4 linked regions of the Homo sapiens genome follow. The protein of the gene in region 3 interacts with the protein of the main gene of each other region in a pairwise test. Each region holds a gene or a part of one and is shown on either strand. Other genes may lie near its edges.

The links. The genes of interacting proteins can lie anywhere in the genome.
Region 1: the proteins of ZNF444 (region 3) and LMO3 interact in binary tests that used the Homo sapiens proteins (3 or more experiments, as listed by UniProt).
Region 2: the proteins of ZNF444 (region 3) and SPRED1 interact in binary tests that used the Homo sapiens proteins (3 or more experiments, as listed by UniProt).
Region 4: the proteins of ZNF444 (region 3) and NDUFV2 interact in binary tests that used the Homo sapiens proteins (3 or more experiments, as listed by UniProt).

Annotation. Positions count from the first base shown.
Region 1 is NC_000012.12:16,547,872-16,551,017, forward strand, and holds the end of LMO3 (LIM domain only protein 3), read right to left. Parts: 3' UTR 501-3,146; downstream 1-500.
Region 2 is NC_000015.10:38,318,836-38,322,335, reverse strand, and holds part of SPRED1 (sprouty-related, EVH1 domain-containing protein 1), read right to left. Parts: intron 96-3,500; coding exon 1-95. UniProt on the Homo sapiens protein: Tyrosine kinase substrate that inhibits growth-factor-mediated activation of MAP kinase. Negatively regulates hematopoiesis of bone marrow.
Region 3 is NC_000019.10:56,144,287-56,147,786, reverse strand, and holds part of ZNF444 (zinc finger protein 444), read right to left. Parts: exon of another isoform or gene 1,938-3,500; intron 1,541-1,937; 5' UTR 1,367-1,540; intron 898-1,366; 5' UTR 876-897; coding exon 579-875; intron 1-578. UniProt on the Homo sapiens protein: Transcriptional regulator. Binds to the 5'-flanking critical region of the SCARF1 promoter.
Region 4 is NC_000018.10:9,126,699-9,130,198, reverse strand, and holds part of NDUFV2 (NADH dehydrogenase [ubiquinone] flavoprotein 2, mitochondrial precursor), read right to left. Parts: intron 3,369-3,500; coding exon 3,292-3,368; intron 1-3,291.

The DNA.
Region 1 (3,146 bases), on a different chromosome or scaffold from region 3:
GTGATGATTCAGAGAGTGGTTTGCCTAAAGTGATAGTTAAAAGGAAAACACTTTTGCATGGCATGTTTTACTACAGATATAATTTTCAGTGCCCTGTTTCAGTTAAGGTGCAACATCTCTTCTGTAAAAATGTAGAATTGAGTTTCCTGTTTTAATTCATTATACAGAATAGAAAATTTGAAATTTAATCTGACAACAGCAACAGAGTTGCTTTCAGAAAGATCACCTAAAATTTGTATAAATGTGCAAAATTACACCCAGCAATTGCTACCTTCATTTTTGAGAGTTTTATTTTCCCCATAAAAATAAATAGCGGTAAACGACCTAGCGCAGAGATCCTAAACATTACATTCAGAGAAACATTTGGGGTGCTTTGTCTATGCTTGTTATGACTTAGCTTTAGAAAGTAAATGTCCTTACACACCTTTTTTTTCTTTTCATGGACTTAACATATGCTTTCTAGAGATCATCTTAAATTTTGCCAATTAAGTGCAATCAAATAGTGTAACACCCCTTTTATTAAAAACATAAATCCAAATGTAAAAAAGTGAATGAAAGAATCCAGCAGATATTTATTAAGCAAGATGAAAGTGAAATTACAAACACAGGTCAACTTTTAAACTCAGCACTCTGTTGGAGTGGAGGTGCACGGTCCTTCATCATAGGCAGCCTATGCGAGATGCATCTTAGGAAGGGAGCTTTCGCTGCTCAGAAATCAAAGCTCCATCGGAGGTGTCCTACTGGAGGCATCAGACAACAAGCTAAATGACGTTAGGGCTACACAACACAAAGGGGAAAGTTGACAACAATTCAGGGGCTTTGAGTAGTCAAGACAATTAGCTTAGTACTTCAGGTCAATAAATGCTACAATTTATGGGCAATTAGCTGTAAAATGGCCTACAGCTGAAACACTATTCTTGTCTTATTTCACGATTTCATGGAGATTAAAGATAATCTAAACAGATTAAGGCCTTAATCTTTAATCCAGGTGAGTAATTTTGTTTGTAGTAAAAAGCATAAGAAATAATTCTCAGCATATTATGTAAAAGAAAAAGCAGTGAAAACCTTGTTTGGTCTTCCAGTGGCAAGGATAGTTGAACAACTTCAAGAAGCTGAGAGAAGTTTGTTCCCAATTTACAAGTATTTTGACATATAGATAAACAAAAGCAAAACCAGTTAAACCTTAAAAGATCATCTGAATAAGATCCTGACAATTATAATTTTACATCCATGTGAATTTCAAGCAATTGTTAATGGGGACCAGCAGGGCTGCATTAAGAAAACCACTTTTCACTGATCTCTCCCCCACATATTTTTAATTTGTCTTGCTTTGTTTATTTTGGTTATGCAAGTCCTTTCTCTTCATGAAACAAGTGTAAGGCTCTAAGGCTAAAATAATAGTTATTTTTGTGGGCCCCAAATAGCTACTTTTGAATTTCTTTCTTTAGTATATCTCAAATCTGGGGAACATGGAACTTGAAGACTCCTAACCATGAAGCATTTGGAAAAATACATATCATTCACTTTTCACAGAACCATTTTCTTAAAAATAAGAGGCAATATCCAGATTCACATGCATGTTCATAATAAAGCTTTGTTTTAAAACAAATCCACACCAGCATTATTTTCAGCTTAATATTTTGGCCCCAACCCAAGAATTCAGGTATAACATTTAATTTTCATCTGTAATGCATATATTGGAAGGACAAAATATATATGCAAATAACACTGGAAAATATTGTTTCCTATACAAGTGATCAAGAAAAAAACAAAGAAAAAGAAAACCCATAGCACTAAGTTTGCTGTAGTGAAAATATGGTTAACGGTGCCGTGCAAAATTAGATTTGTTGAAAAGTAGTTCTATTACAGGGAGCAAAAGCAAAGAAGCAAGTTTGTGGGCAACTCGGAAGAGGGGATCATATTCTCATTTCCTTAATTGTAATTTAAATAATCATTCTCCATAATTTCTCTTTCTAGAGCTTTCTTCTTTGTATGCTATCACGTAAGGTAGTACTATTTCACCTTAAAAAATGGAAAGACAAATTTCAGCCTAAGAATGATGTATTCTGAGTTGGCAATTACTTAAAACAATGAGAGAGTAAAACACATCAAACTTAAAGTGTTTACTTTTTGAACATTAAAATAAATGTCAGGTAAATACAGAAAAATATATAATCACTAGTTCTCAGCATTTTATCAATCCCTTTGTTTCTCTTCTTCTAGAAGATTCTATGAGCATTATGTTGCTCCGATCAAAAGTAACCTCACTACTCAAATACCATCATAGCTTCAATGTGCATTATAGTGATTTCAGTAGATTCACACTCAAATCTTTTCAGTGTCATACATTTATTAAGCCATAAAGTTATGAAACCCTCAGCTCTTGTGGAGAGATCTGGGCAGAATTTATACAAGAAGAAGTTTAATTTATCACTTAAAAATCATCTCATAATTGTGGTAACAGATTTTTAAAGTAACCCTTTGGAAAAAATTTTACGTGATACCCAAAGGCACTAGTTCACATAAGGGGTGTGGCTGAAAAAGCAAAACAAAGCCATTGTGTAAGTAAAGAGCACACAAAAAAAGGATATTAAAAGGAAACCTGTTAAGCTTTAAAGTTATTCTAAAAATGGCACTTTTCACGTTGGTATAAAATGAAAGTGCTTTAAGATGAAATTTTTATGTATTTTTTTAAAGCTGATTTTTAACCCCCTGAAAATAGGGGGTTATAACAAGAACACTGATAGACTCTAACTCATAGCGGCAATAAGTAGTGGATGTCACTAAAATGCTCTGTGTGTGTCTTTATTTTTTAGTATTTTTAATGTTGATAGACTTGCTTTATCTATCTGTGTATCATTAGTGAGATTTGCTTTTCAATTCTTTACTAGAAAGTTACAGCTCATTTAAAATAGCTGGTAAATACAGAAAGCATAAATATACAGTAAGTTTAAACACTGATTGTACTAAATGCAACAATACAAAGAAGCAAATGGAACACAAATGGTAACACAATAAAACTGTATTACATTTGTGCTTCAAATATTACAATACATTATATACAATAGTCCAAAATAAACATCTCATGCCAAGTGACACAAAAACGAATAGCAAGCAAAAAAATCCAGCCATATGTACATTACTTT
Region 2 (3,500 bases), on a different chromosome or scaffold from region 3:
AGACCAAACTTCTTGTCATCAATCTTCCAGTGGTGAAATGTTGGAGTGACCTTATTATAAATGAGGTCTTTTTTAAGCATACATTCCAAAACCACCTGACAAAAGCCAAATACCAAAAATTAATATACATATATCAAATGCATCTAATGTAGCTCATAAATACAAACTGAGGTGATACAACGCTATTACTTTTTAATGAATAATTTTTAGTATTTTAAATAAAGTGGTCTACTTCACAAAGTCACTCAATAAAGAGATTAAGATGGAATAAAAAAATGCACATTATAAACAGGATGCTTATTATACTCCCATTTTAAGAATACACACATATATACACTCCCATTGCATACAAAATTTCTGGAGGAATATATCAGGAATTACTTCCAGGAAACAGGCAGGGGGTTGGTAATAATAGAAATTTAACTTTTTAAAGTCATTTTTGGCTGGGGGCAGTGGCTCACACCTGTAATCCCAGCACTTTGGGAGGCCGAGGCGGGCGGATCACTTGAAATCAGGAGTTTGAGACCAGCGTGGCCAACATGGTGAAACCCCATCTCTACTAAAAATATAAAAAATTAGCTGGGTGTGGAGGTACATGCCTGTAATCCCAGCTACTCAGGAGGCTGAGGCAGGAGAATCGTCTGAGCCCAGGAGGTGGAGGTTGCAGTGAGTTGAGATCACGTCACTGCACTCCAACCTGGGCAACACAGTGAGACTTTGTCTCAAAAACAAAACAAAACAAAATAAAGTCATTTTCCTAAACTTCTTAAAAGACGTATTTATATTTTGTGTAAGGATTTAATGGTCACAGCAGTAAAACAAATACACTTGGCCACTTTTTCAAAATATGCATTTAAGTGAGTTACCTAACTTTTGAAGCCTTAGTTTACTCATCTGTAAAACAGAAATTGCAGTACTAAAATATCCCAGAGCTTAGAGTGGAATGACCGAATGTGCATTCATGTTAAGAGCTTCATGCAATGCATGAAGCAATATACCCTTGGTTTTTAAATTTTTTATTTTGAAAGTATTTCAAATTTGTAGAAAAGTAACAAGAATAACACAGAAAATTCCTGTTTTCCCTTTATCCAGATTTATCACATTAATTTTTAACATTCTCTCCACATATATCCATGTATAAACATTTAATTTACTTTATTATGAACTATTTCAAAGGAGTTACATATATTATGTTCTACTGCTCTTTAATACACACTTGAGTATATTTCCTAAGTGCAATACTATTCTCTTATGTAATCACAGTATGGTGATCTCATTCAGGAAATTTAAAACCAACACAGAACTTTAATCTATAGACCATGTTCCATAGACCACGTTCCACTTTTGCCTACTATACTAATAACACCTTTTAGAGCATTTTAAAAATCCTTCCAGTATAGGATCCATTCCAGGACAGTTATAAGGTCTCTTCAGTCTTTCGTTCCTGGGCCTGTCTTTCATCATATTCACAGTATGCTTTTAATATATGTTAGTTGTCAAATAAAACAAAAGTGGATATATTAGTGATCTTTGCAATTAATCTAATAAAAAGACTAGAACTACACACCTTAATTATTTTAAGAATCCCCTATAAGAAAACAGGAGGAAAAGAATTAAAAATAATTCAAATGAAACCCATAGTAGCACATGACACATAATAAATGCTCAGCTGGTATTTGGTGAAAGGTTGTATTTTCATTACCTCCACTCTTTTCCAATCACCATTATCACTTGCACATCTCTTCCATGCACTGCTGATGATCCCCTCAGATATTACTAGTAGTAGTGAATTACTAATAGTAATTGCACTACTCTGCAGGTAGAGTAATAATTTTTCTTAAAAAAAAATAGCAACTTTACTGGACCACTCCCTAGTTTCAATGTCTTTTCAATGCTTTCAAGACTAAAATTCTTACTATGACCTACTAGGCCCTGCATGAGCTGGTCTTTGTCTGTTTGCCAAATCCTTAAACTACAGTGGCAGACAAACATTAGGTACTCAACCAATACTTCTCCTCAGAAATCTTTTAGGCTTTATGCACTTCCCAAGGAACTCATTCACAGATCATGGACTAGGAATCTCTAATTTATACTTTTGGAGGGGAGGTCTGCTAGAGTCTGCTTATACTGGCTCCCAAGAGCCAGATATTAAATTTTCAAGAATTTTGGAAGCCATTGTTAAAAGCTAGAATATATAACTCTACAATGAAATAAATTGCATTAAAAATAAAATAATAAATACACAAAACTCATCAGTTCCTAATTATTTTACTATATTTTTACAATTACCTAGGTTCTTGAGGTAGTTTATGTCTGTCATATCTGTACGGTGGAAATACTATATAATGCCACACTGCTGCTCATTTCTTCCCAATGCTATATGCAATGATGGCATGTTGAGTAAAAGCAGCCATGGTAGAGGTATGTAAATGCTATAAATCATTGACTTGTGTCCCCTCTTGAAAGCTGATTGTTAAACCTTTTATCAGCATACCACTGAATATAATAATTCTTGGTAGTAAGTTTTATTAATTCAGAAATAACCAAAAATGTGACTAAGGTTCAGTCCTGCCCGTTTATAGGCAATGCAGTGAAATTCTCTCAAGACTTTTGCTTCCTATACTTTGATGACTCTATGTGTATTAGAAAAGAATTAACCGCCAGGCACAGTGGCTCACGCCTGTAATCCCAGCCCTGTGGGAGGCTGAGGCGGGTGGATCAACTGAGGTCAGGAGTTCAAGACCATCCTGACCAACATAGTGAAACCCGTCTCCACTAAAATACAAAAATTAGCCGGGCGTGGTGGTGGGAACCTGTAATCTCAGCTACTCGAGAGGCTGAGCCAGGAGAATCACTTCAACCTGGGAGGCAGAGGTTGCAGTGAGCCGAGATCATGCCATTGCACTCCAGCCTAGGCAGCAAGAGTAAAACTCTGTCTCAAAAAAAGAAAATAATTTACATGTATCCAGAGCTTTTTTGAGTCGGCACTTTGCTAAAGCATTTTACACAGATTTACTATTAAATATTTGTTACAACCATTTTGCAACAACAACAACAATTCACGATTAAGTTCTAGAATTCAAGGGGAAGTAAATGGTAGTGTCATAAATTACTGCAACATTTATACTATATTCATAAACAGTGGGAAAAGCAGTATTTTGTAAAACAATGCTAAATTGGAATTGTTAAAAAGGGGAAGACATAAAAACAGTTTGATTCTAGTTTTTTAATATATAATAATAACACCAAATTAATTTTTAATACATGAAAATATTACTGAATTAGCCCCCTCTTCTATTTTACAAAATTAATATTTTCAACTATTAACTCTCAAATAAAATTTCAATGTGATCTACCCTAATCTTGTCTTCAAATGGCATCTATTGTTTAGAGCCTCCCAACACTCACAGAAAAAGTAGTTTTAAAAATAAGTTCAAGCACTATTCACAATAGCAAAGACATGGAATCAACCTAGGTGTCCATCAATGGTGGATTAAATA
Region 3 (3,500 bases):
CCTCACGCATGATAAGGAGGGTCTGCCTGCCCCGGGGGACTCAGGCCAGCCCAAAAGCAAGATGAATTTGGGGTAGAGTTTGGACCAGGGGGTATCCTTGACTTTCAGGGGGCGGGAGGCTGAGGTCAGCCACACAGAACGGGGAGGAGTCCCCAGTAAGAACCCAGGACACCACGGTCTGAGGAGAATTCCTGGCCGGCAAGACCCCCTGCGTGCGGGCGGGGTGCGGGGAGAGGACAGCTGGTAACTGCGCTCCCTGGAGCCTTCGTGGCCTTCTTCCCAGCTGCTTCCAGCACGTCCTTCTCTGATAAGCCGTGACCGTGAACACGGCTGTGAGTCCTAGAGAACTCGCAAGTATGCCAGGGTCTTGGGGCCCTCCTGACTTGCAGCTGGTGTGGGGATGGAGGGTGCCGCACGTGGACTGTCCCTCCACGCTGTACCGCAGCCTGTACCGCAGCCTCCCCACCGCGAGTCACACTGGTTTTCAGGGGTTCAGTGGTGCTCCTCCCTGGGCTTCCTGGTGGCTTCCCTGGCACCTTCCCCTCTCCCTTCCCCGCTTGCAGTCCCGCCAGGCTCACCCAGAGCTCCTCCAGCAGGGCCACCGCCTCCTCCCCGCTCTGCGGCTGCCGGCTGCACACCCAGGCCTGCGTGTCGGCGGGCAGCGCGCTCAGGAACTGTTCCAGCACCAGCAGCTCCAACATCTGCTCCTTGGTGTGCACCTCGGGCCGCAGCCAGTCCCGGCACAGGGCGCGGAGCAGCCCCAGCGCCTCCCGCGGGCCCGGCGCGTCGCCCAGGTGGAAGCGGCGGAAGCGGTGCCACGGGGAGTCCAGCGCCAGGCCCTCGGCCTCCTGCTTCACGGGCACCGCCACCTCCATGGGGCCTCCCGGACCGCAGCGCCTGCAGGGAACAAGCCGGTGAGACCCCTGCCCGCCGAGACCCTGCCCGCGGTGCCCAGACTCACAATGGGACCAACGCTCTTTTTTTTTACTTTTTATTTTTTGAGACGGAGTTTCGCTCTTTCCCCCAGGTTGGAGTGCAGTGGCGGATCTCAGCTTACTGCAACCTCAGCTCCCGGGTTCAGGCGATTCTCCTGCCTTGGCTTCCTGAGTAGCGGGAATTACAGGCATCCGCCACCACGCCTGCTAATTTTTATATTTTTAGTAGAGATGGGGTTTCACCATGTTGGCCAGGCTGATCTCAAACTCCTGACCCCAGGTGATCCGCCCACCTCGGCCTCCCAAAGTGCTGGGAATTACAGGCGTGAGCCACTGCACCCGGCCTGGGACCCGCGCTTCTGAGCCGCCCACATACCCAGGATAGGCCCGGCCTCTGTGCCTCGGTTTCCCCTGTAAGATAAAGCACTCACCTGCTCTGCCTGGCCCAGGGGGCAAAGAGGTCTCTGTGAGGGGGCAGCGCTCACTCGGGTGGTGAGGAAAGGGTGTGCCCTTCCTGGGATCCCAGGGAGTCAAGTCCAGGCTGGGTCCTGCCCTGGGCCCCTGGCCTCTGTACCTCAGTCCTGCAGCTCCTCCCGCAGCCTGTCCTGAGGATTCAACCAGAAAACACAGAAAGAGCTTGCAGCAGGCCTGGCAGCAGCAGGTCACCATCAGCACCACCCTCACTGGACTTGTGGGGCCGTGCACCCCACACCCTGGGAGCAGACACTTTGCAGCCTACTCAGAAGCCACCCCAACTAACTGCTGTGGCCTGAATTTGTCTCCCAAAATTCACATGTGGAAGCTCTCACCCCAGTGTGACCGTATTTGGAGACGAAGCTTTTAACTGGTAATGAAAGTTAACTGAGGTCACAAGGGCTGGGCCTAATAGGGCTGTGGCCTTATAAGAGAAAGGGACACCGGGACTCTGTCCATCTCTGCCAGCAGGAGCACACAGCAAGGAGGCCACCTGCAGCCTGGCAGAGGCCCTCACCAGGAACTGACCATGATGGCATTCTGAGCTTCCCGCTCCCAGAACTGAGAAATAAGCTCATAGCAGTTCAGTCCACGGTGCTCCGCTATGACAGCTATGACGGCCTGTCCCAGTCCCTTCCGCTGGGAATTTGCGATCTGGGTGCCAGCACTGTCGGGTTCTGGTGAGCACCTCTTCCAGGCTGCCGACGGCCTCCTTTTGTGTCCTCCCATGGCGTAGAATAGAGAGAGGCAGCGAGCTCTCCTGTCTCTATTTTTTTTTTTAATTTTTGTTTTGAGATGGAGTCTCGCTCTGTTGCCCAGGATGGAGTGCAATGGTGCGATCTTGGTTCACTGCAACCTCCGCCTCCCAGGGTCAAGCGATTCTCCTGCCTCATCCTCCCAAGTAGCTGGGATTATAGACGTGCGTTACCACGTCCGGATAATTTTTGTATTTTTAGTAGAGACGGGGTTTCGCCAGGTTGGCCAGACTGGTCTCAAACTCCTGACCTCAGGTGATCCACCTGCCTTGGCCTCCGAAAGTGCTGGGATTACCGGCATGAGCCACCACGCCCAGCCGTGATTGCCATTTTTAAATGCATTAATAAATACTTTACAATTTTCTGTTTTGGTTTCTACTATGATACGTAACAATAGATATGACTCCCATCAATAAAAGCATGTTAGGGTCTTCAGTAATTTTGAAGGCAGAAAGGAGTCCTGACTTCAAAGCATTTGAGAAATGGTGGTCTCTGAGCTGGTGGGCCGAATCTGGCCTGCAGCCTGTTTTACTTAAGTCTCACTGGCGCACATCCACGCCCACTTGCTCACGCGCTGTCCACGGCCGCCTTGGAGCTACCGAGTGGCTGTGACAGGGCCTGGGTGGCCTGTAAGGCTGTCCACAGAGCCAAAGATAGTCACTCGCTGGCTCTTTACAGGACAAGACTGCCGGCCCCTGACCTCAAGGACACTGGAAGATCAAGACAGAAGGGACCCTGATGACCCCATGGGGCTCAGGCGCCAGCCCGCCCCAGAACACCTCTGGAGTATTATGGGAGAAAAGAATCAGTTCTGTCCTATGTGGAGCCCTGTACTTGGGGTCTCTTCATTACAGCAGCTTGGACTGTATCATAAGGAACTATATAGCAAAGTCCCCTTGACCACAAGGCAGAGGGTGGGCACATAATCTGCTTCTAGCCGGTGAGGTCTGAGAGGAAGTCTGTGTTCAGACAATTTTCCTCCTGATACAACCAAAGCCTGGGCTCCTGACCGCCATGTCACTAACCACAAACGTCATCTCATTGCTGGGACGGCTGCCACAAGACCCGTGTATGCCTACTCTCGCCACCTAGAGCCAAATCACTCCACAGTGATCACAAAAACTTTTTCACTGTAAATCCCTGTCACTTCCTTGCTCAGTGCCCTCCAACTGCTTCCTGTGATGCTCAAAACCCAAATTGCTTACTATGGCCATGAGACCATGCAGCCCAGCCCTACTTTCTCATCTCTGCCTGCTCCCAGATTCTCTATACTCCAGCCACAATGGATCCCTTTTTTTCTTTTTTCTTTTTTTTAAGACAGGGTCTCTCTCTGTCG
Region 4 (3,500 bases), on a different chromosome or scaffold from region 3:
CCAGATTTATAACTTTAAATACTACCCTTAGTAACTGATGAATCCCCAATTTGTGTTTCCAGCCCTAACCTATTCCCTATATTCCAGGTTCGTATCTACCTATCAGCATCATACCATGGATGTCTTAACAGGCATCTCAAACTTACTATGTCTAAAACAAAATTTGACTTTTCTTCCCCAAACTTGCCCTACCACAAATCTTCTCTATTTTCGGTAAAGGAACCTCAGAGATGCTCAAGCCAAAAAGCTGAAAATCACTCATAAATCCTTAGTCCCACATATCTACTAAATTCTAATCTCCACATAGCAACTATGGCAGTATTTTAAGATTGCTCATTCCATTCCCTACTGAAAACATTCCAACAGTTTTTATTATATTTAAGATTCAGCCCAGATTACTTATCTGGGCCCTTATCTCCTCTGACCCCTTCCACTGCTTTCTTGCTTGAGCACCTCACTGCAGCCATACTGTTACCTTACTTTTCTTCCAGGACCCTGATACATCCTCTTTCCCCTCCCTGGAACATTGTTCCTTCAGCTCTTTACATGGTTCCCTCTAGCTCTTCATTCAGGTCATGGCTCAAATGTTACCACCTCTAAGCGGCCTCTCCTCACTAAATTTACTCCCTATCTATCCCCTAACACCTGCTACATTTTATTGTGTAGCCTTTTTATCACTCACATATTACACTAGTCATCTGTCTCCATCACTAGAAGATATATGAGAACTTTATCTTGTTCATAATTGTATTCATAACCTAAAATAATGCCTGACACACAGCAGGCACTCAAAAAAATTTGTGAAAAAAATTACTGTTGAGTATTTAATGTAATGTGACATAACAAAGTAGACAAAGCAGGTATCAATTTGTGTGGCAGGAGAGTAATACTAGATTAATATGAACCATAGATCCCACAGTTCACAAGAAGCAAAGCAGAAGATTCTAAACGCCAAAGTGGCCGGGCGTGGTGGCTCAAGCCTGTAATCCCAGCACTTTGGGAGGCCAAGGCAGGCAGATCACTTGAGGTCAGGAGTTCGAGACCACCCTGGCCAACATGGTAAAACCCCGTCTCTACTAAAAATACAAAAATTAGCTGGGCATGGTGGTGGCACGTTCTTATAGTCCCAGCTGCTCGGGAGACTGAGGCAGGAGAATCGCTTGAGCCTGGGAGGCAGAAGTTGCAGTGAGTCGAGATCACACCACTGCACTATAGCCTAAGTGACAGAGCAAGACTCCATCTCGGGTGAGGGGAGGAGTGGGGGGGAGGAAGCCCAACACCAAAGTTATGACTATAGAATTCAAAACATCTAATCAGAAGAGAGGGGCCATCTAAAGAACCCAAGTGGATTTCACAAGGAAATCTGCACTTGAGATATTCTTTAGAGTACCCAAAAGGTGAAAGAAGTTATGGGCTGAAGTACAAACCTAAGAATAGCATGAATTTATTTTAAAATACCTGAATCCTAAAAAGCAGATGAAGCTTGTGGAAAATATTATGAAATTTGTACTTTTTGGGGGGACAGTGTCTATTTAAAGCAAGAATAAGTAAGGGATAGGAGCACTAGCTAAGAAAGATACTGTAATGATAGATGACTAAAGGTTTTACTTCAGTTGCCTCCATAAAGGAGAATGATTTTTCACCAGGGAAATGATTTACCTCCTAAAAAAAGGGGTATACCCAAGAAAGTGAGGAATTAGGAAGAAAATGCCAACACTCTTTAAGCAAATTCAATTCTATAGGCTCAGGTTGTTAAGAACAGTATACGTTTCTTAGAAAAGAAAGTAATGGTCAACAGGGGCCAGCTAGCATTTACTAAACTTAAGTTATCCTGAACTGACCTCATTTTCTCATTAAGTAGGGTATTATTAGTAGTTTTAGAGAGCAAACTCTAGAACCACTCATACCCTCTTAGTAATTCTACTTCAGGGAATTGTTATTTATAATAAAGCTTAAGAAAAATATTTTAAAACGGGAGTAAGAGCACATCACAGCTGTTTTAAAACATTAGAATACCGTATGGACATCAAAAACTCCAAATGTGCTGAGGGAAGAAAAAATTTATATACATAAACAAAAAATTTGAGGGATTATGACTAAAACCATGAGAACATTTGCTAGTATTAAGAGAGAATTTTGAGTGATTGAACACATACATGGAATAAGGGTTTGTTTAAAAGTGAAAATCCAAGTTCATAACTGAAAGGAAAGTAATTAATGTAACACAGGTATGGGACGGGAGCAACCTGGATAAATAGTGAACAGAAAAAGATCTAGGTATTATGAAGTGCAGTTAATTGTGTAATGTCTCTGAAGTAGGAGTTGATATAATTAGGCACAATTATTACAAGCATAATGTCTGGAACAAAGGAGGCAGTCCCACAATGCTCTGTGCTGCTCAGTATGTATCTCAAAATACCATGATTAGGCCGGGCACAGTGGCTCATGCCTGTAATCCCAGCACTTTGGGAGTCTGAAGCGGGCAGATCACGAGGTCAGGAGATCGGAGACCATCCTGGCTAATACAGTGAAACCCCGTCACTACTAAAAATACAAAAAATTAGCCGGGCGTGGTGGCTGGCACCTGTAATCCCAGCTACTCGGGAGGCTGAGACAGGGGAATCACTTCTACCTGGGAGGTGGAGCTTGCACTGAGCTGAGATTGTGCCACTGCGCCACTGTACTCCAGACTGGGTGACGGAGTGAGACTCCGTCTCAAAATATAAATAAATAAAAAAGACAAAAAACCATGATTAGTTTAAGCATCACATTAAAGCATTAAATAGTCACTAGCCAACTAGAAAACCCACAGAGGGAGACCAAAGCTATGTCATATGAGAAAAACAATGAAACAATTGTGGATATTCCATCTGAGAAAAAGATAAGGGGAAGACAGGGTAGCTATTTCAAGTAATTGAAGAGCTGTCATTTGGAAGAGGTACTAAAATTATCTTTTGTTGATTCAAAGGGCAGAATTGGATTTTTAGGTAGAAATTAGAGGGAGATGGTCTTTGGGTCAATCTTCTATCAGTATGAACTTTTAAATAATGGAATAGATTTCTATTTGTAGTAAAATTTCCTTCTCTATAAATATTCAGGTATCGGATGATTATCAGACAGGGTTTTAGAAAAAAAATTATTCTTGCTCTAGATGAGATTCATATAGATAATACTATCCAAAGCTCCTACCAATTCCTATGAACTTAAGGTATAAAATTTTTTAAATCAAGTTTATCTGAAAGATTAATTTAGGTGAGCCACTAAAACTTCCTATATATAAATAAAGCATACCTTGGCCCTGGTTTTGGGATTTTGCCAGCCTTGAGCTCATCAATAATTTCTTCAATATCCTTAGCTGTCAAATCCTCCTGGAAAAAAAATTAACAATAGTCATATTTAAATTACTTTCTTTTATATCGATATATTTATAGAGACAAGGTCTCACTATGTTGCCCAGGCTGGTCTCCAACTCCTGGGCTTAAGCAATCCTCCTACCTCAG